2 separate regions of the Homo sapiens genome follow, and region 2 is linked to region 1. Evidence: fine-mapped expression QTL. A gene starts in region 1. The other region holds a variant in brackets. All regions are shown on one strand. Distances are from middle to middle.

Region 1 (4,392 bases):
GATGAAATTCCTACAAGATGATGTGGGAGGCATCTAACTCTGAGAGAAGGAGCCAGCACCTTCCTGAAAGTGATGCCCAGGCTGAGTCTTTAAAGGATGAGTAGGATTTAGTCAGTGAGGAGTGAAATCCAGGCCTTCCTGGCAGACATGAGAAGGTGTGAAGGTGAGAAATTGAATGGCATGGGTGTGTGTGTGAAATTGTGAGTGTTTTCAAAGGTACATAGAAGTGTGTGAACATTGTAAAACTATTGCCTCTGGTTTGTGCAGCTAAAAGATCCAGATGTCACTGTAGTGACTTGATGGAATCATGGCCATTCCCTTTCCATTTCCAGAGCATCACCCAGAGAGGGTACTCCTCTAGAGCCTGGATGGGTGTCCCCTGGGTTAAAGCAAGGGCTGGTCCTCATGATTTCAGAGGGCTATGAACCTGAAGGCTACAGGATGTCTAACAGTGAATAACCATCCCACCTACCTATGATCTCAGTTCTTAAAACACACCCATCCCAATCAATGCCAAAGTCGCATATACCTTTTCAAAGTGACTCAGAATCTGGCTGTATTTCTTCATTGCTTCCTCCCCACAATGGCATGTCATGTGGGCATGCTGAAAAGGACCCAAAGAATAATAGATTATATTACAGATTCTGATTTTTTGCCATTGACATGAAGCAGGCAGAAACTCTACTCTTTCACCCACAACCCTGAGGATGCTTATTCCTATAGAAAAGCTCTTTCAGACCTCACATTTGGAATCACTAAGTTCATCATCAGCTAGGAGAGGAAGCCACCTTTTAGGCTCAAACATGGAACTCATCACTTCTTTTTTAGAAATAGGCAGGCAGTACTGAAGGCATTTGCCATCCCCGTACCCCATCTGGCCTCCCCACAACCCCCAGCTGTAGTCTAGGAGCTCTATCCCAGAGCTCTTTGAGCCCCCATGAGAAAAAAAAAAAAAAGAATTGAATTCCTAGGTCCTATTCAGACTATATTCTGAGGTCAAGCTCAATGGTCTACTAATTGACTGCCTAGACAGAGGACGCACTAATATACTGTAGGATACCTCACCTACAGAAAAAGTATAATTTCAAAGACAACAGAGTTATCATTAATATCAAATAGTTAGCATCTTATAGTTCTTTAGACTTTGCAAAGTACTTTTTGCCTAGAGCATATACCGAAAAGTCAATAAAACTGAGTTCTTATTACCTAGTCACATGTCTCAACACAGATTATTAGAACTTTTGGACTCAGTTTCTCCATCCATTAAATGGAGGTAGGAAAGAGAGTTTAGTTGCTAAGCCATTGAAGCTGTGTGCTGAGATGCATCCTGTCACCCAAGACCCACACTCACACAGAGCCGGAGGTCCTTCTTGATGGTAAGAAAGGAATTGGCGAGGCTGCTGATCTTCCGGAGAGTATAATGGTCAGGGGTCTGGTAGTTTTTAAATACCCTGTCCAGATAGAGTCTTAGCAAATGGCGCAGGAGGCAGCATCGATTCGCAGGCTGCAAAAAACCACAGGTATATTGGTGAGGGGAAAGGGGAGAGCAGAGACAAGACCAGGGTGATGGAGATGCTCCCACTCCACTCCTCCTCCCAGAGTTTGTCTGGGCCAAGCACATACCTTTGTGTCTTGCAAAGACTCAGTCCTCCTTAAGATTCTGATGTCAATGTTTCCATCTTTGGCTTGCTAAACAGAAGAAGACAAAACAAGCAAGGATGAGTCAGTGCCTGCTGCCAGGGTCTTCAATATCAAGACTTCTCATCCACTCCCTGCCAAGAACTAGTGGGAGGTGTCCTTTCCCAAAACATTTTAAATATTTGAACTACAGTTATTTCTTTGGAATACATCCCCCGGGTAAGGAATCCCCAGCCTGCCTCTTTTTATGATTACACTGCCAGTACTGCCAGGAAAGAGAAACGGACAAGGAAGGAAGAGAAAAGGCTTTCAGGAGAGGTAGATACCCGCTTACGTACCACACTGCCCCGTATCTCAGAAAATCCATTTCGTATTTCCTGAAGGTTTGTGGCGATCACACAGCTTCCCAAATTGAGTGTCTTCAGTCCAGTGGAAGGAGTCCATAGGAGATAAAACGCAGCAGAGAGAAGGCTGAAGGCAAGACTAGAGGCTTTCATCTTAGGCCTGAAATCTGGAGACCACAGGAGCTAGGAATTCAAAGAAGAGAGCATGACTTACTGAGTTTCCCCTCCTCCAAGTGTCCACGGGGTGAGGGGTGGGGGGTCAGGGGAAGAGAACAGCCTTATCTGGCCTCAGACAGTGTGGCCCATCCACGCAACTTACTAAGAAAAACTGCCAAGCCTCCCGTGAAGAGAAGATTTCAGGTCTGAGTTCAGAGTCTGAGTGCGAGTTGGTGGCACAGGTCGTGGCTCCTTTATTCTGTCCCCATCCTGGCTCCGCCGTTAGTGCCCAGCAGGTAAGGCCTGGAACAGCAGGCACTTGCAGTGAATAGATAGAGAATGACATTTCAGGGGAAATGTCAAAACTTGTTTTGGGGAATTGACGCATATAGCCTCCCCTTCCAGAAAGCCAACGTAGCTCACCCTTCTGGTCCCCTCAGACCCACAGGGGAACTGGGGAGAAATCGAATCTCACAGAAGCTGTGGCTGCGCCATCGAAAACACCTAGGGGGAAATTGTCTGGATTTTATGGCCACCCACAGGGCAGAGAAACTGAGCTCTGTTTGGCATTTGTCTGAGATCAGATAGGTTATTTGAGGGTAACAGATTCGCTTAAGCCCCAGAGGCAAATAGAAAGTCAATGATTTCATAACAAGCCTACTGCCAGGGAAAGGCAAGACGTGATGGGCAATCAGCCCGATTCCACCTAACACTCGTGTCTGGGACTCCACAGCGCCCTCTGCAGGAGGACTGTAGTCAGGCACTCCTGGGTGGATTCGAGAGTACACGCTTTCCTGGACCTGCAACTCAGGTCCTAGACCAAGCAAATGGTCCCAAAAGTCAGAGAAGAAAGGCAATGACGGAACTCATTTATTCTTGGGCGAGCCTCCTCAGTAAGAGAGCAGGTTAGGGTGTTTGCTGAGTTTTAAGATAAAATAATAATGGGCTGAGGTTAGGGTAAAACAATTGAGGCACTCATTTTAGGTGCAAAATTTAAGGGAGCACTAAAAAACCTCAGTCATCAAGATAAAAATATTTTAGTGCAATATCAAAATGAATTAAAAAGCTTATGACAAACAAAATATCAAAATTTTATATAAAGACAAAATTCGACAGTGCCATGCTGAGCCATATTGAAGCAAAAGGAAAAATTTGTACCACTATTCACATGTTTTCATGTTTCATTCTTAATGGTTAACTTTGTTTCTCAAAAGCATATGATGAAAATATTATTGATGAGTTTCCTTCCCTTAAAACCAGGACAGTAAAATTATAATAAATTTTGTTTGGGGCAGAAATAAAATATTTAAACTTAAAGTCATGAGTCGTAATAAACCTACTTTTTAATTTTTCAATTTTCTCAAATACTTTAATATTTTTGAAAGAAATAAATACATAAAATTTATAAAGACATATATATATACACACACATCATATATATATATGCACACATCCATATATATATGGCTGGCTCCATAGCTTGGCACAGCACTGATAATCATTATCACTTACTGAATTTTTCCTATATGCCAGGCAATATGCTAGACATTTTTTACATTTGTGACCACTCGAGATACTGTCAAATGTAGGAAAAGGAAAAAAGCAAACCAAACCCAAAAGAATCAAAGAGGACTCTGGGTTTGGAGACAAGAGAACTGGGTCCAAATAAATCCTCGCTTTACTAGTTTCCATTGATGTGGGTCATTCCAGTTTACCCAGCACTGAGGTTGGGGGGCAGGGAATGGTTCCTGAAATACGAAAATTTCAGTTTTAAAACTGGAAAAACCACAGGTAAACTGGAATGAGTTGGCCACCCTACCTCTATGTGACCTTGGACAAGTCAACTCACCTCTGAGTTTAATTTTCTTAACCCCAAAATGGTGATAATTAAACTTAACCCAGAAATTGTTTTGATTTTAAATCGATTATTTAAATACAATAATCTATGATTTATACACTTAGCACAGAGCAAGTGATCAATTCATTTTAAGTAGAGATTGATGTTAGTTGTCCTGAACTAACAATTTGATGAGCATTTAATGAGCACCCGCTGTCTTGAATGTTGTGCTAGGTACTGAAGTACAAAGATAAACATGATGATTATTTGTCCTCAAAGAGATTTTGTCCTCGTGGAAAAGGGTCCTTTAGATGTGACCTTGAACATACCTGGGTAAATGATTAGGAGAAGTAGGTGATCCTCACAACAACGTGAGCAGTGTCAGTAGAGGGTAAGATCTCTTACCTGAGCTCAGGA
Region 2 (4,383 bases), 22 kb after region 1:
TGGGAGATAATGTTACTCTTGGCTTCTTAGCATGTATTTCTTAAGCACCAGCTCTGTGAAGAAACACACACAAACACACACGCACACACACACACACACACCCCACTATGCCAGAACTACTGCGAACTCAAAAAGCATTGGGACATATTCTTCAAGTCTGAAAAAAGAGAAAGGAAAAGTAGACGGGGAAAGGAAGCAAACAAGAGACCTAGGAGAGTTTTAAGCAAGATACTAGCCATTTCAGAAAGGATGAGCTCTTCTTCAATTATCTTCCTCCTGCTCCTCCTCCTCTCCTACTAGTACTTCTACTACCATTGATAATAACAATATTTCCTACAGGTGCAGGTCATTATGCCAGTAAATCACCTTCTCTTGTGGGCTTCTTGTCACATGAGCAAGATGCACAAGCCACAAACCATCATGATGGAGGGCTCAGGCTTTGGAGTAGGACACCCGGAGTTTGAATCTCTGTTGTACAACTAGAAACATGGCCTTAGGTGTATTGTCAAACCTCACTAATCTCCAGACAATTTTTTTTTTTTTTTGAGACAGAGTCTAGCTCTGTCACCCAGGCTGGAGTGCAATGAAGCAATCTCAGCTCACTGCAACCTCTGCCACCCGAGTTCAAGCAATTCTCTTGCCTCAGCCTCCCCAGTAGCTGGGATTATAGGTGCCCGCCACCATGCCTGGCTATTTTTTCTATTTTTAGTAGAGACGGAGTTTCACCGTGTTGACCTGGCTGGTCTCGAACTCCTGACCTAGTGATCCACCCACCTCAGCCTCCCAAAGTGCAGAGTTATTCACATTATAATTATAATCGTACCTTAGAGAACTATCGTGAGGAGTAAAGGAGGAGCCATAAGTTAAGTTCTCACCTTGGTGCCTGGCACATGATGAACTCAACATATGTACATTATTGTGGACATTATAGTTCATTCTGGAATGTGGCTGCCTGGATTGGAAGCTCAGCTCTTCTACTTATGCGATATGTGGCCTAGGGTAAGTTACTTAAGCTCTCTGTGCCTAGTTTCCTTCTTAGGGTTTAATTATCCATACTGCTAACAATCAATGAGGTGGCCTTTTTCATTTTATTTCATTCTAAAAACCTACAATAGGATTGTTGTGAGAATTAAATGAAATATATATATATGTATTTATATTATATTATATTACAAGAAGTGTATTTCTTAGACTATCGGCTGGCATATAGGAAGCACTATATACATGTTTGTGGTTATTCACATTTCTTGAATAAATAATCTAGGTGAATTGTGAATTTAACACCTACTAAGTGCCAGGCAGTGAACAAACTAAACCATCCCTACACTCATGAAGCTTACATTCATGTGGAGGAGCAGCTAATAAACAAAATAGGATGCTAGATAAACAGGAAAGGGGTACAAAGTGTGCTGAAGGTGGAAATGGGGGGTTATCCTCCAATACGAGACCTTTGGAGTGAAGGTCTGAAAGACGTGGAGGTGCAAGCCATGCAGGTGTCCAGGGGAAGCACATCCCAGGGCAGTGATAAAAGATCAGAAATGCTATAACTGCCATCACCCAGCCTGCTCAGGGTGGGTGCCCATCCAAGGTCACTTTGGAAAAGTTAGGTCCTCAGCAAACAACCCTGCTCCCTAATAGCGTATGAATCCCATTAACGCATAATGTGTGGAGGGTTTGTTTTATTTTTTAACCCTACCTCAGTTTATGAGTGTGCATGTACACAAAGTGCATACACTGTATGGTGAGAACATGCCTGGTGTGTTTGCGAAACACAGAGCAAACAACTATGGCTGGGTCACAGTGAGCCTGGGGAAGGAGCAGGGACACAGTTAGGGAAAACAGCCAGGAGGGGTGTGTGTGCAGATATCAGGGTTGTCAAAGCCCTCATAATGACTCCAGCTTTTAAATGATTATAGAGGCAGGTGTGGTGGCTTAAGTCTGTAATGCCAGAACTTTGGGAGGCCGAGGAGGGAGGATTGATTGAGCTAGGAGTTTGAGACTACAGTGAGCTATGACCATGCCACTGTGCTCCAGCCTGGGTGACAAAGTGAGACCCTGTCTCCATAAATAAATAAATAATTATATGGAGCAGGTAGTACAGAAGGGTCAGTATCCACAATACTAACAACTAAGGACCAAAGAAATGTACTGACCTGCCCTGGGAAATTCATGGCAGGAGATGCCTTAGAACCAGAAGGTGGCCCCTGAGTCGGCAGTCTTTATATTGCACCGTGCTGTCTCCCACCCTGCTGAGGTCATGAGAGACCTTTTCCTTACTCGATGCTCACAGCAACACTACAGGACTGGTGTTAATATCTCCACTTTACAACAGAGGACACTGAGTCTTAGAAACGTTAAGTGCTTTGTTCAAAGTCACATAGGATTGGAACCAGATCAATTGGACTTCAGAGGTCTTGTTCTTTCCATTAAAGCATGTGATATGAAATCTGAAAGATACACATTTGTGCTCTGAATCATCTATGCAGTGTCCATCTAGATGTTGGTACCCTTTTCAGCCTCTCTACCCAGTGGCCTCTCTACTTACTTGTGTCTGTGCTTGTTCAGCTTTGTCACCATGACAACCATCCCTCTGTCAGAAACACCCTGTCCTCAGTCTTGACTGACTCTCCCTGAATGAAAAGATCCTTCCATTCATAGGTAAAATATGGAATTTATTCAGAAAAACCACTCAGTACAATGTGTACTACAGGATATCACTTGGCTCACATCACAGACATGGACTATATGACTT[T/C]ACAATAAATTAGATGGGAAGGCAGCCCTTTACTCCCAGGATGGCCTGCAGGCCCTTTCAGCAGATAGAGTTTATTACAAATACCACAGTAGACTTTTTGGCTATTTTCAAGCGGAATAAGACAGCCTGAGGCCAGCCAGTGGGACTTTCAGCTGCAAGGGGCCTTCCCCATCTCCTTCCCCTTCAAGGTGGGCTGTCTCCCACAGTAAACCGCACAGGGGGTGTTCATCCCTGGATCACTATACAGGTTCCTTGTCATCAAGCTGAGAACATTACTTCATGATTCTTATTAATCCAGGCTAGAAAGACGTCGAGCTCTCCCAGGGATTTAATGGCAGCAGCGTGGACCTCCAGCTGAAATCAGAGATCAATGTAAGAACCCACCTTTCTAGACTGTGTAATGGTTTTCAAGTCACTTTCTTCATATGCTGGTTCCCACAAGGTTTTGTTTCTGTTTTTGTTTTTTTGTCACGAAATATATTTGCATAACATACAGACTCAATATTATTTTCCTCGCAGGCAACCAATTTTTTTCCCCACAAACAAGTAGTTAAATTATGTCAGCTCCTTATAAACAGAACTTTAAAATTCTTCATTCTTTTCCCTCAGGTTTTTTTTTCCTCTGTTTTTCACAGGAAAAAAAAATCTGCCTTACTGGCCAGTTCCGCTGATTTTCTTCTCCACACCAGCTTGCTTTAGTGCTTCTGTTATCCCAGAACATCTTTGTCCCTGAGGTGCTGGACAGTGGGTAGGGAGAGCATGTTGTCCTCATTTGACATATTAGAGCACTAAAGCCCCTAGAGCAAGTGTCCTACCCAATGTCACACAGCCAGTTAGTAACAGAGCTGGAAATGAAACCCAAGTCTCCTGCCTTATTCCACCTCCTTCCTCAGCAGACTGAGTTCATGCTTTTAGCGCGTCCTGTAGAGCCAGCCAGCGTGGAATTGAATCCTACCTCTGCCGTGCAGTTGCAGTGTGAACTTAGTTTAGTTACTTTACCTGCTCGAGCCTCAGTTTCTTAATGTATCCAATGCAGATAATGACTCATAGCATTGTTGGGAAGGACGAATGTGTGTTAATACTTGTTGTGTGCCTAGAGCAATACCTGGCTTATAGTAAGAACCATGTAACTCTTAGCTATTTCTATAACATTATCTTACAGAGTCTCTCCACAAAGAAGCAGAGCCCATAACAGACTCCCTAACTCTTGCTCTTCAAAGCATTGGTATCATTTGACAGTGTGATCTAAATGCAGAAACTCAGGCTCATCCCAGCCCTGCTGAGCCAGAATCTGCATTTTAACAAGATCTTGAACTGATGCTCATGAGAAACACTGCTTCTTCCTCTACCTCCACGTGAGATGTGCATTTTACACCAACATCAACATGAGAAGTACCATGTCTTCATCACTACACACAATATGGGGGGGCAGGTAGTGATCGCAGTGACGGCGTGCAGGTAACACGTTTCAGGCGTAACAGCTCACATTTCATGGGGGATCTTTGCTCCCTCTGTGTCATCCCATCTTAAGCAGTGGGTGCTTTCCCCAAATCATACAGGTCAGGCTTGATATATGAGGGTATGAGAAAATGGTGGAGGAATGATGGAGATGGGGAGCCCAGGAGATTAGC

Which allele goes with the higher level. Positions count from the first base shown, and alleles are read on the strand shown. Sizes are in standard deviations (SD) of each study's normalised expression.
For the expression in testis of the gene that starts at base 2,365 in region 1, allele C in region 2 goes with a higher level than allele T (moderate effect, 0.65 SD a copy in GTEx).

The links. PIP is the estimated chance that this variant, and not a neighbour inherited with it, causes the effect.
Region 2: its variant is fine-mapped to the expression of IL20 in testis (GTEx, PIP 0.97).

What each region holds. Positions count from the first base shown.
Region 1 is chr1:206,863,596-206,867,987 of GRCh38, reverse strand. It overlaps IL20 (interleukin 20), which reads right to left and starts at 2,365. Exons shown (of 6, transcript NM_018724.4): 1 at 2,302-2,365; 2 at 1,977-2,165; 3 at 1,624-1,689; 4 at 1,352-1,504; 5 at 530-604. The coding sequence starts at 2,135.
Region 2 is chr1:206,841,250-206,845,632 of GRCh38, reverse strand. IL19 (interleukin 19) reads right to left here. Exons shown (of 7, transcript NM_153758.5): 7 at 2,652-3,106. The coding sequence ends at 3,011. LOC105372878 (a long non-coding RNA gene) reads left to right here and starts at 2,812. Exons shown (of 3, transcript XR_922482.3): 1 at 2,812-3,124; 2 at 3,915-4,210. The variant T/C (reference allele first, on the strand shown) is at 2,753.